2 separate regions of the Homo sapiens genome follow, and region 1 is linked to region 2. Evidence: fine-mapped expression QTL. A gene starts in region 2. The other region holds a variant in brackets. All regions are shown on one strand. Distances are between the middles of the regions.

Region 1 (5,389 bases), 40 kb after region 2:
CTTGCATTGCTGTTATTCTAGAGTAATTAGCAGCACACACCAGGATTCCTCTCTTTCATTGCTGTCACCATCTTCCAACGGCTAACAGACTCTTAGTTTCTAATCCTCCATGGATCAGATTAATTTAAAATAAAATCCTAATGAGATAGGAACCTAGCATACAGTCATAAATCATCTTTTATGTATCACCACTCTGTTGGAAGCTTTACAGGGTAGAAATATGACAAATGTGTATGTTGTAAGGTTGACATATTTATAAACCGAGAATCCTAAAATATTGTGACATATGCAAAAGTGGAATTATGTACAGACTAGGAAAGTACATGGCAGGAATGGAGCCTGTTGGCAGAGTAATGCTTCACAGAAGCCTAGGAGCTGAGTTTTTAAGGATTAGTAAGAGTCAGTGAAGGAAAAAGTGCCAGAAAGGAGAGAAAATAGGTAGAGAAAATTAAGAATTATGAAGGATCAGCATGTGCAAACACATGAAGGCATGAAACTGCCTGGTGGAGCCGGGAAATTGCACGTAGGTTGTTATTACTGGAGCATCAAGTAAATAGGTGGAGAAATGTACTCATTAGTGTAATTGTTGCTACTATCATAAATACATCCTCAAATTTCAGTGACTTAACAGAACACAAATTTATTTCTTATTCATGTAAAAGACCAGTGGTAGTGTTCCTGACTGGTGAGTGCCAGTCTTCTACACCATGTAGTGACTCAAGGATCCAGATTTCTTCCACTTTGTGGTTCCGTTATTCTCTAAGACTTTGTCTCCCTGGTATTCAGCTGGCAAAAGAGGAGAGCGGGGGTGAGGAGAAGGCTCTTCTGTTTAAACTCTATTAGCACAGGAGCAACACATCTCACTTCTGTTGATAGTCCACCGGCAAGAACTAGTCACATCGACCATTCTTAAATGCAAGAAAAGTCAGGAAACGTAGACCCTAACTGACAGTAACTTTTCAATAACCACTTATATTATGGAAGGGAGGAGCACCAAGTTTAAGGATCAGCTAGCTGTCTCAGCCATGGGGAACTACTTATTCCTTTACTCATGCTGACTTCTCACTAATCAGTTTAACTAAAGTCTGAAATTAGGGCTGAGGAAGTGAATGGAACTCTTGGCTGATAGAGGGAGCATGGATAGTAGAAAGATCGTTATCCTTTCCACCCTTCCTGAAGCTCCTGATTTTTCCAGAGCAAGTATGGGTCCATCAAAGAAATGATGGCTTGAGAAGGTACACAAATGCGGCCTCTTGGAGAGGGGAGATATGGCTATTGGGGGAACAAGGTTAGGATGTCTGAATAAATTGAGTCCTCATTTAGTTAAGCCTTCGAATAGTTAATGTTCATTTTACTATTTCACTGATAGAGATCTCATGTTATTTTGTTTAGGATCAGTGTTTATTGTGAAATCATCTGTTCCACAATGATGACTTCAGGAATTTTAGACTGTAAAGCAAATGTTTAAACTTTCAGATTATGTGAAAACTTTCAATTATTTATGCATTGACTTACTTGTTTATTTAACAGTAGTTTCTAAGCACTTATATGCCAGGTGCTTGAAGAGAAACAAAGCTGTAAGCATATCTCTGGGTGGTTGGGTGGGATTTAGAAGAGTAGTTCTCAACATTTTTTTGATACCAACACTTCTAAGGATTGACACATATTCGCAGTGGAATTAATTTTCAACCTGCAAGATGTGCTGTTCGCTCCCATCCACCCTTGCCACGGGGATCAATGCCAAACCTCCAGTGAGGATCCTCTATATTTGCAACTTGACAAAGTACTATAAGTGATACAATATGATGTTCTTTGGCAGGTCATGTCTCCATCTTGTGTCCCACTGATAATTACTGATTCTGACATTCAGCTACCACCTCAATAAGGCTGAATGCATTCCACATGAGTAAGCCAGAGATTTCAGTAGATAGAATACAGGGGCTCTAGAAAGGAGAAAATGCAATAGGATATATTCAGAGTGTTGTAAGAGAGACAGCCATATCTCATTAAAAAATTGTTTTAAAAATATCATATACTGATTCTAGCTAAACCATCCAACTGTGTAGTAGCTACCTAATTACTAACGGTAGATTTTTGACAGGTATATCTATGTGGACATTTTTGTACCTGAAATCAAGAAGAAAAAAAAGATAATCATATGTGAATTCAAGATAAAAAAATACAAGGAGAAAGTTTCGGAACTTAATGTTTTTATGCAGTTTGACAATGTTAACGTGCTTGAGCTACTGTTGAATAAAAAGGCTGAATTACAATAGGTGTTGAAAGTGTTCAATGAAATAAATCCTGTTGAGTCTCAGGTCCTTTGAAGTGTGTATTATGCAATCACTAAGAACCGTTTGCTTGAAATCAAGTACTTGCCCTGCTTGTACTTTGCTATATACAATTTCACATTAGTTAGACGAATTAATAACCATTACAATTTCCAACTTCATTAGAGGTGGGGATTCTGTCTTGAATTTCTGTAGAAGGAAATAATTTGCTGCTATTGTGGATAGGTATCAATTGTCAACTCTAGTTCCATAGACCTGGTATAGTTGTTTTTTTTTTTTGTACCTTCTGTCAGTTTGAGGTCAGTTTCTTCTTATGAATGAGAAGCCGCCTTTGCCCTTCAAGAAAATGAAATAAAGCCAGAATAACCTTCCTGCTTCCCCTGCCTGCCTTCCCAG[T/C]CTAGTATTTCAGCATCTGAAGAGTTTATTTTTGGATGTCATTAAATATAGCTAGTGATCCTTTAAATGAAATGGATTAAATGGCAAATGGCTTAGCATCTTCTACCCTTCAGTCTAGTCACCTGAAAAAATTCACAATTCAAAATATGATTTATAACATAACCCTTCTTCATCTCTATTTCTATTATTTCTTGGGAAAAAAGTTTCCTTGCTGATAATGTTGAAGTGTATGCTGACGTTACTACCTTTCATCAATATCTTCTTATGGTAGTAAAGTGGCTACTTTTTAGTTTTCTCACCTGTTGTTTGGAATTTTCCATGGCTTCAAAGATTTTACAGGGGAAGAAAAAAACCATAATTTCCCCAAGACATATTTTGCCAATGGAGAGTTTTCTCCCTTTAGGAATTTTCATATGTGTATGATATTTTGAGCCATTTGTTTGTTAATTCTCACAATTTCTTACAAGTAGTCCTGTCTTCCAAAGCTAAAAATATACTGCAGCTACATATCCTAAGTGATAATGCATATATATACATATATATACTATATGCTATCATATCGTATACACATATATCTGATAAAATGATTTGAACACATTAATTATTAACAACTTTAATTTTTTTAAACTGAAGAACATTATCTCAAACACATCTTTTCTTTTGACAGTACAAAACTGAGGTCTTTTCTTGAATAATGAGATTCTGAATTGATTGGACACATGAGCAGGTATAGACCCAAATGTCATTGAGGGGAAATTTGGGTAAAATACAAGAAAAGTTTTCACTTTTAAGAGAACTGGTTTCTAATCTAATTTATTAGATTCAACAAATGCATATTGAGCACCATCTATAAGTCTAGGTGAGTATGAGAAGTGAAATTAAACATTAAAATATCTCTGGGCTCCTAGTCCCTCGGAAGTGACAATTTAGCAGCCACAAAAAGAATAAAATATCTGGGAATAGAGCTAAATAGGTAGGTGAAAGATCTCCATGGCACGAATTATAAAACACTGCTGAAAGAAAGTAGAGATGACACAAACAAATGGAAAAGCATTTCATGCTCATGGATAGGAAGAATCAATATTGTTATAAGGCCATTCTGCCCAAAGCAATTTGCAAATTCTATACTATTCCTAAAAAACTACCAATGTCATTTTTCACAGAATTAGAAAAAAAATTCTAAAATTCATATCAAACCAAAAAAGAGCCAAGTAGCCAAAGCAATCTAACCAAACAGAACAACACCAGAGGAATCACACTACCTCACCTCAAACTATACTACAAGGCTACAGTAACTAAAACAGCATGGTACTGGTACAAAAAACAGACACATAGACCAATGGAACAGGTTAGAGGACCCAGAAATAAAGCCACATACCTACAACCATCTGATCTTTGAGAAAATTCATAATAAGCAGTGGGGAAATAACATGCTATTCAATAAATGGTTCTGAGATAACTGGCTAGGCATATGCAGAAGATTGAAACTGGGCCCCTTCCTTTCACCATATACAAAAATCAGCTAGTAGTGGGTTAAAGACTTAAATCTAAGACTTAAAACTATAAAAGCCCTAGAAAACAACCTAGGAAATACCATTTTGGACACAGGCCTTGACAAATACTTCATGACAAGAAGTCTTCAGAAGCAATTGCCAACAAAAACAAAACTAGACAAATTAATTATTTGTCTATTTAGAAACCTAAATTGTTTGTCTATTTAGAAACCTAAAACTAAAGCATACTGTGCAGCAAGGGAAACTAACAACAGAGTAAACAGACAACCTACAGAATGGGAGAAAATATTTGCAAATTCTGCATCTGACAAGTTCTAATATGCAGAATCTATAAGAAATCTAAACAAATCAAAAAGCCAAAAACCCCAAACAGCCCATTAAAAAACGGGCAAAGAACATGAGCAGACAATTCTCAAAAGAAGACACATATGTGGCCAACAACCACATAAAAGAATGCTCGGCTGGGGTTGGTGGCTCAGGCCTGGCATGGTGGCTCACACCTGTAATCCCAGCACTTTGGGAGGCTGAGGTGGGAAGATCATGAGGTCAAGAGATTGAGACCATCCTGGCCAATATGGTGAAACCCCATCTCTGCTAAAAATACAAAAATTAGCTGGGCATGATGGTGCACACCTGTAGTCCCAGCTATTCAGGAGGCTGAGGCAGGAGAATTGCTTGAACCTGGGAGACGGAGGTTGCAGTGAGCTGAGACTGTACCACTGCACTCCAGCCTGTGACAGAGTGAGACTCCATCTCAAAAAAAAAAAAAAAAATGCTCAACATCACTAATCATGAAAGAAATGCAATCAAAACCACCGTGAGATACCACCTCACACCAGTCAGAACTGTTATTATTAAAAATTCAAAAAACAACAGATGCTGGCGAGGTTCCAGAAAAAAGGGACTCCTTATACGCTGTTAGTGAGGGTGTAAATTAGTTCAGCCACTGTGGAAAGCAGTTTGGAAATTTCTCAAAGGAAAAACAGAACTACCATTTGTCCCAGCAAACTCATTACTGGGTAAATATTAAAAAGAAAACAAATTATTCTACCAGAAAGTCACATGCATTTGCATGTTTATCACACCCCTATTCATAATAACAAAGACATGGAATCAATATAGGTGCCCATCAACAGCAGACTGGATAAAGAAAATATGGTACGTATACACAATGGAATACTATGCAGC
Region 2 (5,389 bases):
TAGAATGCTGTGGGACAGCAGCATTGCCGCAGCACCTGTGACTGAAAGACATTTTGCAAATCGCAAGGAAGACAAGTCTTCCATTGGCATCAGTGGAACCGGTGGAAGAAAACCAATTTTATTCTGAGTTGGATGATGGAAGAGTTGATTCAGTTTAAGGTCAAAGAAGAGCAGAACCAGAAATCAAGGCCTCAGGATGGGAACAAAGAACAATGAAGTCAGGGGGAAAAAAGGTGGCGGGGAGAGAGAGTGGGTAACAGACTTGAAACTAAGAATCACAAAACTTAAGCAAATGTTGAGACCTAGCAATTATGATGGGCAGTTTCTATAACCTAGCCTTAAGCTTAGACTTTTATTTTAAAGCAATAACCAAAACAAAAGAAATTAAGGAATTATATCACTGGAGGGAACCTTATGGGCAGAGACTTGAGGTTCAGAGTTGTGAAATAATGCTCTTACTATCACACAGCAAGTTAAGTGGGAGTCTCCATTTCCCTTCTCCCCATGCTTTCCTGCCCCTGCACTGTCAGGAAGGGTGGTGGAGAGGAAGGAGAAGGTACCAGGGCACCCGGGAATACATCACAGCCTGAGGACAGGTTATGCAGGTGGGGCCTTTATAGCTAGGGAAACACCGGAGAAGACAAGGGAAGTATGGCAGTTTCTTCCTTAGAGAAGACTTATAAGGGGGTTAAAGCATATGCTATGTGAAATAAACACCTGGAGATCCAAAACCCTCAGGTGGTAACTAATAATAAGAGAATCATGTTGGGATGCAGCATCTTCAGCGGGAAGCACAAGTTGCTCAACAAAGTAATAAAATAGATCAATAGGGTGCCAAATTTCTTGCCTCTATTACTTTCTCTTCTCAGAATGACACAGGAAATAAATGTAGCCAAGTCCCAAATCTGATCCCAGTACCCAAACTTTCATTAAAAGAGGGCTCCTGAAGGGGGGGAGTAGGTTTTTAATACTTAACGAGGCTATCAGCAAACAAAGAGAAGAGGCCCAGGTGGGCTCAATAGCCAGGTCACAAATGGTTGCCCAAAGAAAAAAACGGTGCAGAAGGAGACGCTTTGGGGAAGAATTGCTGAGGTCTTCGGGAGACTATAGCAGGCTGGCACTATGGAGATGTTTACCTGGACATTTAAGAAAATTGGAGGATGGAGTTGGGTGTCGGGCAGTGGCCTGCCAGAGGCTCTGTTTAGTCCTGGAAGCAGGAGACCTTTTGCTAAAATTCTGTCTCAGTTACACACATGCATTGGCTAAGGCTGTAGGGATTGGGGTGTGGAGACATCTTGCTTCTCCTTCCTCAGTTTGATTATTCAAAGGACATCTGGGAACCCTGAGGGTGGGAGAGTTTGGCCAAGGTTGGAGCGATGTCCCGTGTCTAGGACCCACCGCTATGGTTTGCAGGGAGAGAGCTAAAGGGACGTGAGCAGTGCAGGGACATTGACTGGGAAGCAGAGGGCGTGGATGGAGACACTCTTAACTTCACCTCAAAAGTAGCACAACTTTTAAACGAACGCCTTGCAGAGTCATACCGGCTTCCCGCTCAGATGATGGCTAAAATACAAGAGTTAACTAAAAGCCTCAGGAAGAAAGTTTATTGAATTGCATCTTATTTCTGTAGATTTCTTCCTTGCACTCGGAAGAGTTTGGTTAAAATGGATTGAGAATTTCGAGGCACGTGGCAAACAAACCTACCTTGTTCCCTCCCATTCCAGAAGCCCCTCACCTGATTTGGGAAAGTGTGGCCAGCTCCAGGGGCAGGCGCTGACCAGAACTACGGTCGCTCTTTCCTTGGTCCCCGAGAGCTTCCCAGTATAGAGCCAGCAGTTAGGACACCGTGACATGAAACTTAGCACCCCGCCCTTGAAGTCCCCCAAGCATGCCTGGCGGTCCGCGCGGACTCACCCGCGCCCCGGGCGCTGCGTCACGTCCCGCCGAGGGCCGGCTGCGCTGGTGCGGGTCTCCCGCCCGCCGCCTCGGCGTCCCGGCTGTGCGCCCTCACTCGCTGGGTCCGCTCCAGCCGCTCCCCATCGATCACCGCCGCGGCCCGGCAGAGCTGCTAGCGGCGCGCCGGTCCAGACGTCCTGTCACTCGCTGCTGCCTGGGGTCCTGGCTGTCAGGCGCTGGAATCATTGGCGAGGAGGCAGCTCCGAATTTATAGTGAGGGGCGTTGCTGCTTCTTGGGTTCCGGGGACGAGGCTCTGTTTTGCATTCCCTCCTCCTCCGCCCCGCCCCGGGAGACCCTCCCGGCCCAACCTCCTCCCTCTCGGGATATTGACGGCAGCAAGGATGATGCCACAGTCGTCCCGTGTCAACTATCAGATCAGCGTTCACCTGGTCCCGAACCCCGCCTAGCGAGGGGTCGTGAGGGAGAGCGAGCTGGGGGTACAGGAGTATCATTTCCTGCGGAGATTCGTGTTCTTCAACATTTTTTTTTTCTGAACTTGGAAAACTTTTAAGGACGAATTAGAGAACTTCTTTCTCTTTCCTATGAGTAACTCGAACTTTGGTAATACAGTTGTGGATCATAGATTACATGGATTAATTCCAGGGTTATGAAATTCAAGGGTGGACACTCATTTGTTCCTATTGGACATGCTACCCAAGTTGCATTTTAAAAATGTATTTTAAAAACCCAATAAATATTTAAAGAAGAAATAATATCAATTCTTCACAAACTCTTCCAAAAAATAGAAGAGTAAGGATGATCTCCCAACTCATGCTATGAGGCCAGTATCACCCTGATAACAAAACCAGATAAAGACATCACGAGACTACAGATCAATATTTCTTAAGAGTATAGATAAAAATTCTCAACAAAATGTAGGCAAATTGAATCCAATAACATATGAAAGGGACTATACACCATGGTCAAGTGAGGTTGATGCCAGAAAGCAAGATTAGATTAGTTTACCAAAAATCAATTAATGTTAGATAGGTGAGTAGGGTGACTGTAGTTTACAGTAATCTATTGTATATTTCAGAGTAGCTAGGAGAAAATAACTTGAATGTTTCTAGCATGAAGAAAAGACAAATATTTAAGGTGATGGATATGCCAATTGCACTGATTTGATCTTTATATGAATGCATTAAATTATTGCATGTACCTAAAAAGTCCTGTCACTCGCTGCTGCCTGGGGTCCTGGCTGTCAGGCGCTGGAATCATCGGCGAGGAGGCAGCTCCGAATTTATAGTGAGGGGCATTAAATTATTGCATGTACCTAAAAAGTGTACATCTATTGTGTATCAATAAAAATAAATTTAAAGAAGTAAAAAATGGACAAAGCCTACATGATTGTCTAAAAAAATTTTTAAAAACTATTGGACAAAATTCAACACTTTTTCATGCTAACACTCAACAAACTAGGAATAGGAACTTCCTCAAACTGTGAAGTTTATTTATGAAAAACTTAACTAATATCACACATAATAACGGAAGACAACGTTTTTATGTCTAAGATCAGGAACAAGACAAAATGTCTAGTCTTCCCATTTCTATTTAACTTTGTACTAAAGGTTCTAGTGAGGGCAATTGGACAAGAAAAAAAGATAAATGGCATCCAGATTAGAAAGAAAGTAAAACAATTTCTATTTGTAGATGACATGATCTTGTATTAAAAAGCCCTAAGGAATCAATTAATTAACTATTAGAACTAAGAAACAAGTTGAGCAAGTTTTTAGAATACAAGATCAATATACAAAAATCAGTTGTATTTCTATACACTAGCAATAAACAATCAACAAATGGAATTAAGAAAACAATTCCACTGTTGGCTTCTCACCACTTGCTGTGTGGGTCTGTGTCCTCTCCCTGCCTCACATGCTGCCATGCCTCAAAAAGTTAAGGAGATCAAGGACTTTCTGCTTACAGCCAGGTGAAAAGATGCCAGATCTGTCAAGGTCAAGAGAAATAAGGATAATGTGAAGTTTAAAGTTTGATGCAGCAGATACCTTCATACATTAGTCATCATAGACAAAGAGAAGGCAGAGAAACTGAAGCAGTTCTGGCACCCTGGTTTGTTAGAGAAGGAGATGAAATCAGACACACTGATTTGAACTGTGTTAAAAATTTAAAAATTCAAAGATAAAAACAATTTTACTTACTATAGATCAAAAGAGTAAAAATACTAAGAAATGACCTGGTGTAGTGGCTCACTCCTGTAATCTCAGCACTTTGGGAGGCCGAGGTGGGTGAATCACAAGGTCAGGGATTCGAGACCAGGCTGGCCAACATCGTGAAACCCTGTCTCTACTAAAAATGCAAAAGAAAAAAAAAAAAAAAAAGCCAGGCGTGGTGGTGCATGCCTGTAGTTCCAGCTACTCAGGAGGAGGAGGCTGAGGCAGAAGAATCGCTTGAACCCAGGAGGTAGAGGTTGCTGTGAGCTGAGATTGTGCCACTGCACTCCAGCCTGGGTGACAGAGTGAGACTCCATCTCAAAACAAACCAACCAACCAACAAAACAAAACAAAACAAAAAAAACCCTAAGAAATAAATTTAACAAAAGGATCTAAAACTTGTAGTCTGAAAACAAACAAAAAGAATTGTTGAAATAAGGTAGACCTAAATAAATGGAATGACATTCCATGTTCTTGGATTGAAAGATTTAATATCGTTACAATGGCATTAATCTTCAAATGATCTACAGGTTAAACAAAATCTCTATCAAAACCCAGCAAGCTTTTATTGCAGAAATGAATGGAGTTATCCTAAAAACATGTAGCAGTGCGAGGGGCCCAGAATAGTCAAGACAATTCTGAAAAAGAACAAACTTACCAATTTCAAAATTTACTGCAAAATTACAATAAACAAGACAATGTGGTACTGGCATAGCAATAGATAGAAAGATCAATGGAACAGAATTGTGTCCACAAACTAAACCCTTACATTTATGAGCCACTAGATTTTGAAAAGGGTTGAAAAAATGCAGAATGAGTAATCTTTATTACAAATGGTACTGGAATAATTGGATATCTGCATGCAGAAGAATGAAGTTGGACTCCTTATAATACCACATGTAAAAATTAAGTCAAAATGGATCATAGACCCAAGCTTAAGAGAAAAATTATAAAACTAAATAGAAAACGTAGGAGTAAACCTTTGTTACCTTGGGTTATGCAAAGCCATCTTAGATACAACTCCAAAAGCATAAGAAATACAAGAAAAAGTAGGTAAATTAATTTGATTTCATCAATATTAACAGCATCTATACTTCCAAGGGTATCAAGAAAGTGAAAAGAAAAAGCCAAGAATGTGCAAAGATATTTGCAAATTATATACCTGATAAGGACTTGTGTATAGAACATATAAAGATAATAAAGCACACACAAAGATAATAAAAACACCATTAAAAATGGTCAAAGGATCTTAATATACATTTCT

What was found. PIP is the estimated chance that this variant, and not a neighbour inherited with it, causes the effect.
Region 1: its variant is the best candidate, but not a certain one, in a credible set for the expression of AGTR1 in fibroblasts (GTEx, PIP 0.83).

Annotation. Positions count from the first base shown.
Region 1 is chr3:148,654,613-148,660,001 of GRCh38, reverse strand. No RefSeq gene overlaps it. Among named protein-coding and RNA genes, the nearest start is that of AGTR1, 41 kb to the left of the region's middle. The variant T/C (reference allele first, on the strand shown) is at 2,688.
Region 2 is chr3:148,694,653-148,700,041 of GRCh38, reverse strand. AGTR1 (angiotensin II receptor type 1) reads right to left here and starts at 2,139. Exons shown (of 3, transcript NM_000685.5): 1 at 1,915-2,139. It also overlaps the pseudogene RPL38P1.